2 linked regions of the Homo sapiens genome follow. The protein of the gene in region 2 interacts with the protein of the main gene of each other region in a pairwise test. Each region holds a gene or a part of one and is shown on either strand. Other genes may lie near its edges.

The links. Proteins that work in one complex are often made in the same cells at the same time.
Region 1: the proteins of MIPOL1 (region 2) and USH1C interact in binary tests that used the Homo sapiens proteins (3 or more experiments, as listed by UniProt).

What each region holds. Positions count from the first base shown.
Region 1 is NC_000011.10:17,520,391-17,527,416, forward strand, and holds part of USH1C (harmonin), read right to left. Parts: intron 6,942-7,026; coding exon 6,833-6,941; intron 6,651-6,832; coding exon 6,626-6,650; intron 6,421-6,625; coding exon 6,363-6,420; intron 6,052-6,362; coding exon 5,957-6,051; intron 4,146-5,956; coding exon 4,061-4,145; intron 3,089-4,060; coding exon 3,029-3,088; intron 2,878-3,028; coding exon 2,821-2,877; intron 2,537-2,820; coding exon 2,394-2,536; intron 1,022-2,393; coding exon 956-1,021; intron 605-955; coding exon 480-604; intron 1-479. UniProt on the Homo sapiens protein: Anchoring/scaffolding protein that is a part of the functional network formed by USH1C, USH1G, CDH23 and MYO7A that mediates mechanotransduction in cochlear hair cells. Required for normal development and maintenance of cochlear hair cell bundles.
Region 2 is NC_000014.9:37,494,926-37,501,951, forward strand, and holds part of MIPOL1 (mirror-image polydactyly gene 1 protein), read left to right. Parts: intron 1-4,982; coding exon 4,983-5,213; intron 5,214-7,026.

The DNA of each region.
Region 1 (7,026 bases), on a different chromosome or scaffold from region 2:
GCTGGAGACACTTAGTAAGCTCCTCCCACAGTTATGAATCAACCTTGGACCACCAGAGCCCTTCTCTGATGTGAGGTCCTTCCCCTCTTTTCTGCTGCTGGCTTCACCCCAGCCCCTGTTCAGAACCAAGTAGGAGGAGGACATGGTACCCAAAACATTAGGACGGTAATCCCATGAGCTAATCCACTTTCACTATGGCCCTTATTCCCTCTTCAGCAGCCTGACAGCCTGCCCATGTCAGTGTTGTGGGGGACCTGGGAGCTGGGTATGTGGAGCTGGCCCGTGAACAAGGGGAGCAGACAGATCCCTCCTACCTCGATGCTGGGGCAGATGGTCTCTGACCCACAGCTGCCCCTCCATGAAGGAACCACAGCCCAGAGCACCAAGGGCTATCCATCTAGGAGGTGGTGGTGAGGGGAGGGAGGGCCAGCATTTCTGACTAGTTCCCTTAGCCTCTCCCCTCGGCTCATGAAACTTACACTTTGGCTTGCGAAGGGGTACTGGGTGTACCTCAGCAGTGATGGTTTTAGGCAAGAGTAGCTGTTCCTTTGAGCCCCAGTCTTCTTCCCATTGCTTCTTAAACTTCTCTTCCTCCTCTACAATCCTAAAATGAGACCCCCATGCCTGTTACTGGAGTCAGAACCCCCATAGGCCCATCTCCTGCATATCGGAGAGCCCCAGCCAGCCTGGGGAGAAGCCTCATGGTTCTAGTCATGATGAATCAAGCAAAGTCCCCGAGCTTGTATTCTAAATTGAGTGTGAACCCCACCTTGGCAATTATACGAGACTATGTTTCAGTTACTATAATATGACAGGCTTTACTACAAATAAAGGAGGACCCACCAGGGGATGAGAGAACCAGGTAAACTGGTTCTGGAGGCAGCCTCTGGTTGGCCACACTCCCCTGAGCACACTGATGTTCATGCACAGACACGCGTGGAGCCGAGGTACTCACTGTTCCATCTCCTTCCGGTATCTCTCATTTTCCTCTGCTGCCTTCTGGGCAATTTCTTTTCTCCTTCTGAAACACAAATGCAGATTGGCATGTTTGGCCCTATGCAAGAGAAATGAACTCTTCCTTACTGTGAATTCTTGATTTGGAGAAAAGTTGGATTTTTCTCCAGGCTCCCTTCCTAGGAGGCCTGGACCAGCTTTGGTTTTGGGGGACGTTATCTAACAAAGTCTGGACGCTGTGCTCTTGCGTGGTTTTGTCTGGCATGGCTGAGCAGAGATGCTGGGCTGTGGGAGGAGGGAAGCAGATCCATGTGAAGGCCACACTCCATGCACCCTCCTCCAAACACTTAGGTAAGGTGACTGATGACAGGCGGGGCCTGGACTGACCCCAGGAGCAAAGCAGGGGCTCCTAGCCAGGTGGAATACTCCCAGCTAACTCTGTGTTGGGGGAGATGGGGACAGCCTTTCCTCTTTCCTTTTCAAAATACATTAATTGATTGATTGATTGAGACAAAGTCTCACTTTGCACCCAGGAGTTCAGTGGTGCGATATCAGCTCACTGCAACCTCTGCCTCCCAGGTTCAAGTGATTCTCATGTCTCAGCCTCCCGAGAAGCTGGGATTACAGTCGCATGCCACTATGCCCAGCTAATTTTTTTTTGTATTTTTAGTAGAGACACAGTTTCACCATGCTGGCCAGGCTGGTCTCGAACTCCTGACCTCAGATGATCTGCCGGCCTCGACCTCCAAAGTGCTGGGATAACAGGCGTGAGTCACTGCGTCCAGCCATGAAATACTTTTAAATGCCTAAAAGGTATTTGGATTTGGATCTTGACAGTAGTTTTTGATTTATGAATTGCTCACCCCATTTATTCTCTTAGGCCATCATTTCAATCCTCCTGGACAAGGGTGAGCTTCATCACTATAGGCAGGGCAGCCCTGTGGGGACTTGCCAGATTGCCTGGGGGTGATCCCAGCTTGGCCACGTGTGACGTTAGACACAAGTGGCTTCACCTCTCTGAGTGTCAGTCTCCACACCTCTAAAATGGGGTTAATACTCTCTACCTCCCAGGGCTATTGTGGGAATTAAGAAACATAAACAAGGCCCTAATACAACACCAGCCTTATGGAGGTACTTGACAAATGTTAGCTGGTAGCTAATCCTAGCTAGCTAGAGCCTACTGCTAGTAGGATGCTTATTTTCCATATTCTTGGAATGTTGGAAGACAGGGGGCTCTGCTCAGCAAGGAGGAAGGAGCCAGGTGGTCTGAGGCCAAGGATGGATACGCTGACCTACCACCAAACTCATCTGGTCTGAGGACTGGCCTCCAGGGAGGAGGAGGAAGTTGGCTGGGGACACAGCGGGCAGGAAGCAAGCTAGGTGGGGTCGTGTGGTGGGGTGGGAGGCGGGACAGGGCATCCAGGGCTGGCTGCACTCACTGCCGCTCCATCTCCTGCTGCTCCTGGAGGATCTTGTTGGACTCCATCGCCAGCCGCTTCTGCATGAGAAGCTCCTGCCGCTGCAGCTCACGCTGCCGCGCCTCTGCCAGCCGCTCCCGGTCTGTCATGAACAGCTCCCGGCCCTCATGGGAGAAAAGAGGCCCCTTGCTCAGCCCCCGGGGAACCTGGGGATCCCCTGACACACCCCTGGGGGCCGAGATGCAGGTGGTCTTCTCAGCACCATCAGGCACTGCGGCTCCCGCAATCCCTGACCCAAACTTCTTGCTGGGCAGAAGTCCTCTCGCTCTGCTCTGTCAGAGCTTCAGGGAAGGAGACCAGCCACCCTGGGAGTGTGTGGCAGAGATCAAAGGTCAGAGGGGCTGGGGATGAAGGTCAAGGGGCTCCCACCAGCTCATTCTGGACTTACAGCTGCAGCTACAATGGAGATGGTCAGGCTGCGGCTACTCTTCAGCACATTTACAGCCTGTGGGGACAGAAGGACAGTGGGCCGAGGCCTGACAGACCACAGCAGTCCAGGCAGAGAGCACAGAAGGCCCCAGGCTCCAGGGTGGTGGGGATGAGAAGTGGGGTGTGGAGATGACAAGGGCCAACAGGTGAAGACCCCCACATCTCACCTCCTTGTGATCCAGGTTAGAGAAGTCGACGCCATTGACTTCGACAATCTGGTCCCCTATCTGGTGGGGAAATGGAGAAAGATTAGTGTGTTTGCGCTATCTGTACACTCGCTCATCTGCAGGACAGGCTCCCCCAGGGGCTCTGGGTCAGATGCTGGATCTTCAAGTGGCAGTACCTCAGCTCCTCCTGATGAATGGAGCAGTTGGAAAGCTCTGGTGGAGCTCTGGGAGGGCTTAAAGCTGACCCTGGCACTCCCCTACTTCATAACTATCTTATCAACTATCAAATATTATACCATTACATGTTCATTTCTTTGGCTAAATTTGATGACATTTGCTTTAAAAATCACAGTTTGCAGATGCGGGAACCTTTGAGCTTCTCATTTAGCACAGGCTGTGTTGAATCGTCATAACAGAATAGCTAACATTCACTGATCACTTACAATGTGCTTGGCACAGCTCTAGTATACATATTAATTACTTTAACCCACACAACAACCTTGGAAGAAAGCCTGTATTATCCCCATCTTACAGGTAAGCAAACAGACATGAAGTAACTTGTCCAAAGAAGAGGTTAAGGGTTCCTGCTTTGGGATTGGACCACCTAGGTTTGAATCCCAGCCCTACCATATGAGGTACACGATTTTGGAAAAATCATATACTTTCTCTGGGTCTCAGTTTCCTCATATGTAAAGTGGGGATAATGGTGGTACTTAACCCTCAGCATTCTTGTGAAGTGTAAAGGGCATGGAACAATGTCTGATGCAAGTGGACACTGAAGGTCCGCTCTTTGATTACCATTACGACATTCCCAAGCTCGTGACCAACAACTATCAGAGCTGGGGAAGGCTGCAGAAGGGTCAAACATCCCCAGTCTGTGAAGCCTTCTCTGCAGGGTGGGTAGGGCTCCTACTCCCTCAGTGTCCACTGAAAGAGGGCCATGTGGAAAGGCACCTGCCCCTGTCACCGCGGGATCACAGTCTGACCCAATTTCCAGTGGGCCCCCACTGGGGCCGGCCCAGCGTCACTCACCTCCAATCCCACCTCAGCAGACAGGGAGCCAGGTTTCACATGGCTGATAAAGATGCCAGGCTTCTGGATGGGGCCGCTGGAAATGCTGCGGGAGGTGGGAAATGTGTGCTCGGGATTCAGGTAACCCATGTCCAGTGCTCAGGATACAGGTCACTCATGAGCTGAGGACTGAAGGCCCTTGACTGCCTACCTCTTCAGCCTCTGTGTCCCTCTCCAGCCTGATTTCTACTGCTACCCTGGGCAACAGCCACAGAAAAATCCTTGTAATTCTTCCTACCCAACCTCTCACCTAATATACCTCATATGCTGTTTCTTCTTTCTTTCTAGCACTTTCCTGTCCATCCATTAAGACTCAAATGCTATCCCTTCTATAAGGTTTTTACCAGATCCTCTTATTTTTTTAAATTTATTTTTTAGAGACAGGGTCTTGCTCTGTCACCCAGGTTGGAGTGCAGTGGTGTGATCATAGCTCTCTGCAACCTCCAACTCCTGGGATCAAGCAATCTTCCCACCTCAGCCTAGCTGCGACTACAGGTGTGCACCACCATGCCTGGCTCAGATCCCTTATTCTATCCCAAGACTAAACTAGCCGCTCTGTTCTCAGTGCTCCTATGACATTTACGGCAAGGATGGTACATGTACTGTTAGTATTCCTTCCTAGATTGGTGGCAGAAGTCACTCATTGATCACAGCACTCTTTCCCACAATCCTGGATACAGCTTTAGAATGCTTTTCAAAGCAGCACTCCAGGGAGCTGCTACTCATTGACTAGAGATGGCACCTATTTGCCATCCTGGACGCAGAATGTAGTCCCGTTCGAGTCCCTATCACCCTATATTATAACTATTTACTTGGTTGGCTTCTAGATTAGGCTGTTGTCTCCCAGAAAGGTGGGACTTTTTATCACTTGTGCTTGGCACAAAACATTGAATAAATGTGAATGAAAGGAAAGAACAGGGATAACTTAAATAATAATAGCTAATATTTACCAACTGCTTACTATTTAGCAGGTACTAAGTTTGGCACTTTACTTTCTCCACAACCACCCTGTGATGTGGGAATTATTATCGCCCATTTATAGAGGGAGAAACTGAGGCTCAAAGTGGTTAAGTAACTGGCCCAAGGTTCCAGAGCTCTTAAGTGGGAAAGCAGGGCTGGAACTGGGATCTGAGTAACGGTGGCACCTGCATGCTTAAGCCCCGTGTGGCCCAGTGTCTGTTCGGAATTCCCTGTCTGCCTCTTAAGGAAGCCAACAAGTTAATAAGTGACAAGAGAGCTGTGACAGAGATGACCAGCCAAACAGGCTCCTTTTGCAGTGACTCAAGGGCCCACAAGGTAACACTGTTCTGCCTCTGGGCCTCAATTTCCTCATCTGTAAATTGGGCTCTGTTAGAGATGACCCTCTGGCCCTAAAGGCCTGTCATGAAGTTCAGAGGGGAAATCAGGCACCAAGAAGTGTCAACACCAAGGCTGGGTGCGGTGCTTCATGCCTCTAATCCCAGGGCTTTGGGAGGCTGAGGTGGGAGGATCACTTGAGCCCAGGAGTTTGAGACCAGCCTGGGCAACATAACAAAACTCCATCTCTACAAAAAAATTAAAAGTTAGCTGGGTATGGCAGTGTGTTCCTGTAGATCCAGCTACTCAGGAGGCTGAGGTGGGAGGATTGCTTGAGCTGGGGAGGTTGAGGCTACAGTGAGCTATGATCATGCCACTGCACTCCAGCCTGGGCAACAGAGTCAGACCCTGTATCTAACAAAAAAAGTATCATCACCCATGGACAGTCACACCCCTGGTGGGCAAGGTTTCCTCGGAAGTGGCAGTGAGGAAGGGGAGGGCAATAGGGGCCTGCTGGGGTGCACTGGCCACGAATGACCCCAGGGCATGCCTGCCACCCACCTGCAGCCAAGGCCTCGGGAGCCTACCAGGCTGATGAAGACCTTCTTCTCCTTGTTTTCCCGATTTCCAGGGGAGCCCAGGCTGCCTCGCACGCCCTGAAAGAGAGATAGAAGCAGAATCACGGAGTGTCCACATGCGTGCAAGCGGCCTCTTGAGCTTGTGGGATCTGCAGGGCGAGCACTGCTGAACTCACGCCAGCCAGATCATCATTCCGTCCCTGGGGATGTGTCTGCACCAGCTGGGCCTGGCCGAGGGCTGCTGCCCCACAGCGGTGTGCTGGCTGCCCTGGGAGCCTGTGTGAAGCCCCTGAGGGTGCATCTCTAGAGCAAGCCCTCCCTTCAGGACCGGCCACCCCTCCTTGAAGATGACCCCACCCAAACCCCATCACAGGAGGTCTGGCCCTTACCCCAGATTCCGACACAAACTGATCCACATACTGCCAAGTGAGGGGCTCATCAGGAGAGCTGATGGGAAGGGAAAATAGATGGGAGGGTGGTTAGCGAGAGACGTTTGAGGAACCAGGCCCCACATCCAGATCCACCATGTCTAGAGCCTCCAGCCTCCACTGGCCCAGAAGCAGGGCTGGCATGGTGGGAGCCGGACCCCAGGGCTGTACCAGGATCCTGGGCCCACAGGGAAGAGTTGGCCTGCAGAGGAGGGGCCTCTCACCTTTTCACGGGGATCAGGCCGATGTCTGCGGGAGAAAGGCACAGGGGTTAGGACAGCTCCCCCGCCCTCCCTCCCTCCCACCGTCATGGAGTACTGACCTGCTCCCCCGCCCTCCCTCCCTCCCACCGTCATGGAGTACTGCCCTGCTCCCCCGCCCTCCCTCCCTCCCACCGTCATGGAGTACTGCCCTGCTCTGGCCTCACTCACGTCTCACTTTGATGGACACAGTTTTCTTGGTTCGAATGAGGTTGATGACCTCCTCATGGGTACAGGAGGAGATGGAATATCCATTGATCCGGACGATCTCGTCCCCTACCTTGACCACAGAGAGAGGCAGGGAGCACCAGGTGGAGGGAGCATCAGGCAGTGGGGCAGACTCACCACCAGATGCTCCCGGACTG
Region 2 (7,026 bases):
GGGTACAATCCAAACATGTCCATCTGAGAGAAAAATCAAAATCAGGTATAAATTTGCCCCCTAAAAATTAAATGATAGAAGACTAGAAAGTGAGGAGTGATTAGGAAATTAAATCAGGATGCTCATAATTTTCATAATGGTGAGACTTTTAAAACTTAATCATTGATTCTTTTTTTTTCTAGGTAATTTTTCTTTTTTTTTTTTTTAATATTTTTTTTATTATACTTTAAGTTTTAGGGTACATGGCACATTGTGCAGGTTAGTTACATATGTATACATGTGCCATGCTGGTGCGCTGCACCCACTAACTCGTCATCTAGCATTAGGTATATCTCCCAATGCTATCCCTCCCCCCTCCCCCCACCCCACCACAGTCCCCAGAGTGTGATGTTCCCCTTCCTGTGTCCATGTGATCTCATTGTTCAATTCCCACCTATGAGTGAGACTATGCGGTGTTTGGTTTTTTGTTCTTGCGATAGTTTACTGAGAATGATGATTTCCAATTTCATCCATGTCCCTACAAAGGACATGAACTCATCCTTTTTTATGGCTGCATAGTATCCCATGGTGTATATGTGCCACATTTTCTTAATCCAGTCTATCATTGTTGGACATTTGGGTTGGTTCCAAGTCTTTGCTATTGTGAATAGTGCCACAATAAACATACGTGTGCATGTGTCTTTATAGCAGCATGATTTATAGTCCTTTGGGTATATACCCAGTAATGGGATGGCTGGGTCAAATGGTATTTCTAGTTCTAGATCCCTGAGGAATCGCCACACTGTCTTCCACAATGGTTGAACTAGTTTACAGTCCCACCAACAGTGTAAAAGTGTTCCTATTTCTCCACATCCTCTCCAGCACCTGTTTCCTAACTTTTTAATGATTGCCATTCTAACTGGTGTGAGATGGTATCTCATTGTGGTTTTGATTTGCATTTCTCTGATGGCCAGTGATGATGAGCATTTTTTCATGTGTTTTTTGGCTGCATAAATGTCTTCTTTTGAGAAGTGTCTGTTCATGTCCTTCGCCCACTTTTTGATGGGGTTGTTTGTTTTTTTCTTGTAAATTTGTTTGAGTTCATTGTAGATTCTGGATATTAGCCCTTTGTCAGATGAGTAGGTTGTGAAAATTTTATCCCATTTTGTAGGTTGCCTGTTCACTCTGATGGTAGTTTCTTTTGCTGTGCAGAAGCTCTTTAATTAGGTATTGTTGGGACGTATTTCAAAATAATAAGAGCTATCTATGACAAACCCACAGCCAATATCATACTGAATGGGCAAAAACTGGAAGCATTCCCTTTGAAAACTGGCACAAGACAGGGATGCCCTCTCTCACCACTCCTATTCAACATAGTGTTGGAAGTTCTGGCCAGGGCAATTAGGCAGAAGAAGGAAATAAAGGGTATTCAATTAGGAAAAGAGGAAGTCAAATTGTCCCTGTTTGCAGACGACATGATTGTATATCTAGAAAACCCCATTGTCTCAGCCCAAAACCTCCTTAAGCTGATAAGCAACTTCAGCAAAGTCTCAGGATACAAAATCAATGTACAAAAATCACAAGCATTCTTATACACCAATAACAGACAAACAGAGAGCCAAATCATGAGTGAACTCCCATTCACAATTGCTTCAAAGAGAATAAAATACCTAGGAATCCAACTTACAAGGGATGTGAAGGACCTCTTCAAGGAGAACTACAAACCACTGCTCAATGAAATAAAAGAGGATACAAACAAATGGAAGAACATTCCATGCTCATGGGTAGGAATAATCAATATCGTGAAAATGGCCATACTGCCCAAGGTAATTTACAGATTCAATGCCATCCCCATCAAGCTACCAATGACTTTCTTCACAGAATTGGAAAAAACTACTTTAAAGTTCGTATGGAACCAAAAAAGAGTCTGCATCGCCAAGTCAATCCTAAGCCAAAAGAACAAAGCTGGAGGCATCACACTACCTGACTTCAAACTATACTACAAGGCTACAGTAACCAAAACAGCATGGTACTGGTACCAAAACAGAGATATAGATCAATGGAACAGAACAGAGCCCTCAGAAATAACACCGCATAGATCTGATCTTTGACAAACCTGAGAAAAACAGGCAATGGGGAAAGGATTCCCTATTTAATAAATGGTGCTGGGAAAACTGGCTAGCCATATGTAGAAAGCTGAAACTGGATCCCTTCCTTACACCTTATACAAAAATCAATTCAAGATGGATTAAAGACTTAAACGGTAGACCTAAAACCATAAAAACCCTAGAAGAAAACCTAGGCATCACCATTCAGGACATAGGCATGGGCAAGGACTTCATGTCTAAAACACCAAAAGCAATGGCAACAAAAGACAAAATTGACAAATGGGATCTAATCATTGATTCTTAATATGTAATTGGTTACGGTATACTGGTTACTGCTTTAGGCATGATAGGCAAATGCTGAATTCCCAAACGAAGCTGTCTCACTGAGTTTTAAATTAGGCCATATATGTAAAGTTAAAATATAAGGGAATGGAGTAGGCTAAGATTTTTTAAACAGTTTACAAAAAGCATTGCCATTAAAGAAACAATGATAAATTGAACTTTATTTAAATTGAGAACTTACCTTCATCAAAAGACAGCATTAAGAGTCAGGCATGGTGGCATATGCCCATAGTCCGAGCTACTCAGCAGGCTGAGGCAGGAGGACTGTTTGAGCCCAGGAGTTCAAGGTCAGCCTGGAAAACATAGTGAGAACTTGTCTCAACCAATCAATAATATACACATACATAAGACAATACGAAGAGAATGAAACATCACTGCATCCATATTACAATAACTAAAGTTAAAAGCATTTGACAGTGCCATTCTGAGGGAGGATATAAAGCAATTGAAACTCATATTTTGCTGATGGGAGTACAAATTGGTACAACTAATTTGGAAGACTATTAGCAGCATCTAAATCTAAATCAGCATCTATTATCATTGTACTAAATCTGAAAATAATGCATACCCTTTGGAGAAATTCTACTTTACACATGAATACCTAGGTCCATCAAAAGACATGTACAGGAATATCCATAGCAACAACTGTGGACAGTTAAATAAGTTACGGCATATGTATATAACAGAATATTTTATAGCAATAAAAAGCAATGAATTATATGCAACAGCAAGGTGAACTTCACTTACCAATTGTTGAGGAAAATAAGCCAGACAAAAAGTTTAAAAATAGGCAATTTACATTTTGATAAAGGTTGGATTAGTACTTACCTTTTGGGGAGGGGAAAAAATGGGAGGGAACACTGGGGGGTCTTCTAGATTTCTGCATTTGTTCTGTATTTTGTTCTTCACATTTTTTCAAGCTGAATACTTTGTATATATGCACTTTGTGTAATTTAAAACGTAATTAACAATTAAAATATAACTAATGTTTTAAATATAAAGAACATAAACAAGTACCTTTTTTAAGGTTTAGCTTTTAGTTTGTTTCTTCTTTTCTTTCTTTCTTTCTTGCATCTTTCATGGAGATAAAGAGGGTGAGCTGAAGAAAATTGGAACTTGGAACAGACAAGAATGCAGAAAGTGAGAGGACACAGAAAAAATAGTAAAATGGGCAAGAGACAGCCTTTAAGCATATGGGTTGGTAGAAAAATCTGAGAAGAAATGAAGTAGGGATAGTTAGATTAATAACAATGTGCAAACCATGAAAAAAGGTATTTTTTGCACTCTACAAATGTGGCACTACACACTATTCTAATTTTCTGTGTAGTAACCAGTTGACCAGCGCTTAGTAACAGTCCGTATTCTTAGGGGTTTGAATCCTGAAGTGGTTTCATTTGGTATGCTGACTGTCCTTGTTTCATATCCATCCTAGTTCTATGGGACGCCTTCTCCAAAATAAGCATACTGTAAAGGCTTATAGATAACTTAAACTAAAAGAGGAAATTTATAATTACTTTGAACAGTTTTAAAGAAAGTATCAGGCTAGATATTAGGACAATGCCAAAGTTCACTAACTAGCTTTTTGCAGGTTTAATAATGATATTGCTTTCCTTCCCATTATCAATCTATATTATATAGTTAAGTTGTTTTACTTCAAATGTCTCCAATCGACATTTCCTTTGTATGCATATACTGAAATGATATTTAATAAAAAAGAACATCTCCTGTGTGGAGTTTAAATTTCTCTTATTAAATATTTATATTTTCAAAATGTCTTTATTTAATTGAGTGAGGTGCTTGGTGCCATTTCAAAATAACCTCAGGTGGTAGGTGTAATGACATATCAAAGATTTGACCTTTAGCATTTTAGGATTCTATTTGTCTGCATTTTCTTCTGCATTCATTTAGTCTTAATTTATATGCTATTTCTCTGTATGACTTAATGAGTAGATGTATTCGTTAAGAGATTCATTAGCCAAAAAAAAATATACACATGTATATATGAATACATTTTATTTCTGTGCAATCTGACTAGTGATTTTAAATTCATTTATATCTCAACTGTGACAAGTAGAAGATCAAGTAGAAAATGCTATGTAGAAGGCTGGTCAGTGTTTGCATAAACCTCATCCATTCTCATTAAGTGCTTGGCAGAATAGACCCTCGATCTCCTAAACCAATGCCCATTCTCTTCTCACTTCTTTCAGCTTATTACATTCTTTTATTTGCCTAGAGATACTTTATTTTCCAGTTCTCTGCTATTCCTTTTAAAGAAAATTGAATGTAATATTTACACTGATATAATTAAATTAACATCTTGCAGCATCTTTTTGTATGCTTTGGTAGCATAATCATTTGTCTGGGTAGCTTTCAGCCTAGAAGCAGAGAAATTATCAATTATAATGTTGTGACATAAAAATTATTTTCATTTGCTCATTTAAGTATTTATTGATTTTTAGAACTAGAGATTCTAAATGGAGGTTTTTGTTAAATAGATCATAGATCACTCAGTTTACATTACTTATCTTTAAATTTTTTTTAATATTTTCTCAGTTTACACAAATCTTTATCTCAAGAAGAAAATCTGAAGGATCAGTTTAACTATACCCTTAGTACATATGAAGAAGCTTTAAAAAACAGAGAGAACATTGTTTCCATCACTCAACAACAAAATGAGGAACTGGCTACTCAACTGCAACAAGCTCTGACAGAGCGAGCAAATATGGAATTACAACTTCAACATGCCAGAGAGGCCTCCCAAGTGGCCAATGAAAAAGTTCAAAAGTAAGTTAAATGATCTTGTAATAATACTTCAAACACATGAAACAAAACAAAACACTTTCTTTTGGGAACTAAACAATATGTAGTTATTGATCATGTTAATAGTTTAGAACAAAAGTAGAATTAACCCAGTGAACTTTTTTAGATTGGATACCATATGCCATATTTGGGGTCAAAAAAGTCATTTTCTTGGGAACCATTGTTACCCTGTAGGGCAAACCATTTTTATTTAATAACTGATCATCAGTTCATGGAGGCCATACTATTTAAATCATTTCACAGTCACAAGTTAATAGGCAAAGTTATTAGCAAGGGGAAGAGGCAGTCAAGTTACCACCTGAACTAATTTAGCTTTACAATAATCCTGCTTGAGTTGAGATCATCTGTGACATTGCAACCTGAGACTTGTAGGTGCATAAAAACCAGTAGGGTGAAATTAATTTTCTTGTGTTGTTCTTCTGAAGTATTCAATACTGCTTTTCACAGTGCATAATTATATATGTTTATTTTGAATGATCTTTGCATTTTTATTAGAATTTAAATAAAGCTGCATAATCTGTCAGTCCTTTTGACAGCTAGCAAAATGTTAACAAACAGCTTACCAGGCAAAGAAGTCACTTGTTAATTTAATGGACTTGAACATTGTAGCAGAATTTTCTGAGACACCTTTAATGTAATAGAACCACTGTAATAGAATACATAGAACACATGTAATAGAATATATTTTAACCTTCTTTATGTATTGTTAACAGCACTACAGCATTCACATATCTAGTCACCTTCAATTTCAAAGATATACCTTTTTCCTTAACAATTTTTATGTCAGTTTTACACTGTGAAGCAGTGCTCACATCAAGGTTTCTTACTTCCCACTACTTCTTATTTGAAAATGTCATCTTGACCATTTCCTCAATATCCCTGAAGTTATATTTTGATTAATAGCCAAAGTTATGTAAGTCAGTAGTTTTAAATTAGACCATTTTAAAACAGTTTAGAAATTGTGCATTTTAATCTTTACTAGCCATGTACCTTGAAACTTTTGATTTATGTAGGTATTATATATATTTGTAAGTTTAAAGATGGGGTTTATATTCAGTCAGAAACTATATGCAGTTATTCACAATGTACGTTAATATTCTAAGAACACTATGATGTATAGGTAGATCTCATTTCATTATAAATCACAATCAGTAACTTTTGACAGGATCTGATTTGGCTCTGTTTGCTTAAAGTCTACAAATACATACAAATTTCAAATTTTTCTTTATATATAATCCATTAATTTCTATACATGACCAAAATTCCCTAAAACAGTGGTTCCCACAGACCAATTCTATTTTCAAAAAATCTTCGGATGTGTTATCAACCTTTTATTTTTTAGATCTCATCAACTATCATCATCATTTCATTTAAAAAAACAATTTTTATACACCAAGAAGTAGAAATAATATCATCTCAGATAATGTTTTAAATTAAATAACTTTACTGAATGGCCAAGATAACCAAATAGGAACAGCTCTAGTCTGCAGCTCCCAGTGTTGATCGACACAGAAGATGGGTGATTTCTGTATTTCCACCTGAGATACCTGGTTCATCTCGTTGGGACTGGTTGGACAGTGCATGCAGCCCACCGAGGGTGAGCCAAAGCAGGGCAGGGTGTCACCTCACCTGGGAAGCACAAGGTGTCGGGGGATTTCTTTTTCCTAGCCAAGGGAAGCCGTGACAGACTGTACCTGGAAAATCGGTACACTCCCACCCAAATACTGTGCTTTTCCCACAGTCTTACCAACCTGCAGACCAGGAGATTCTCTCTCAT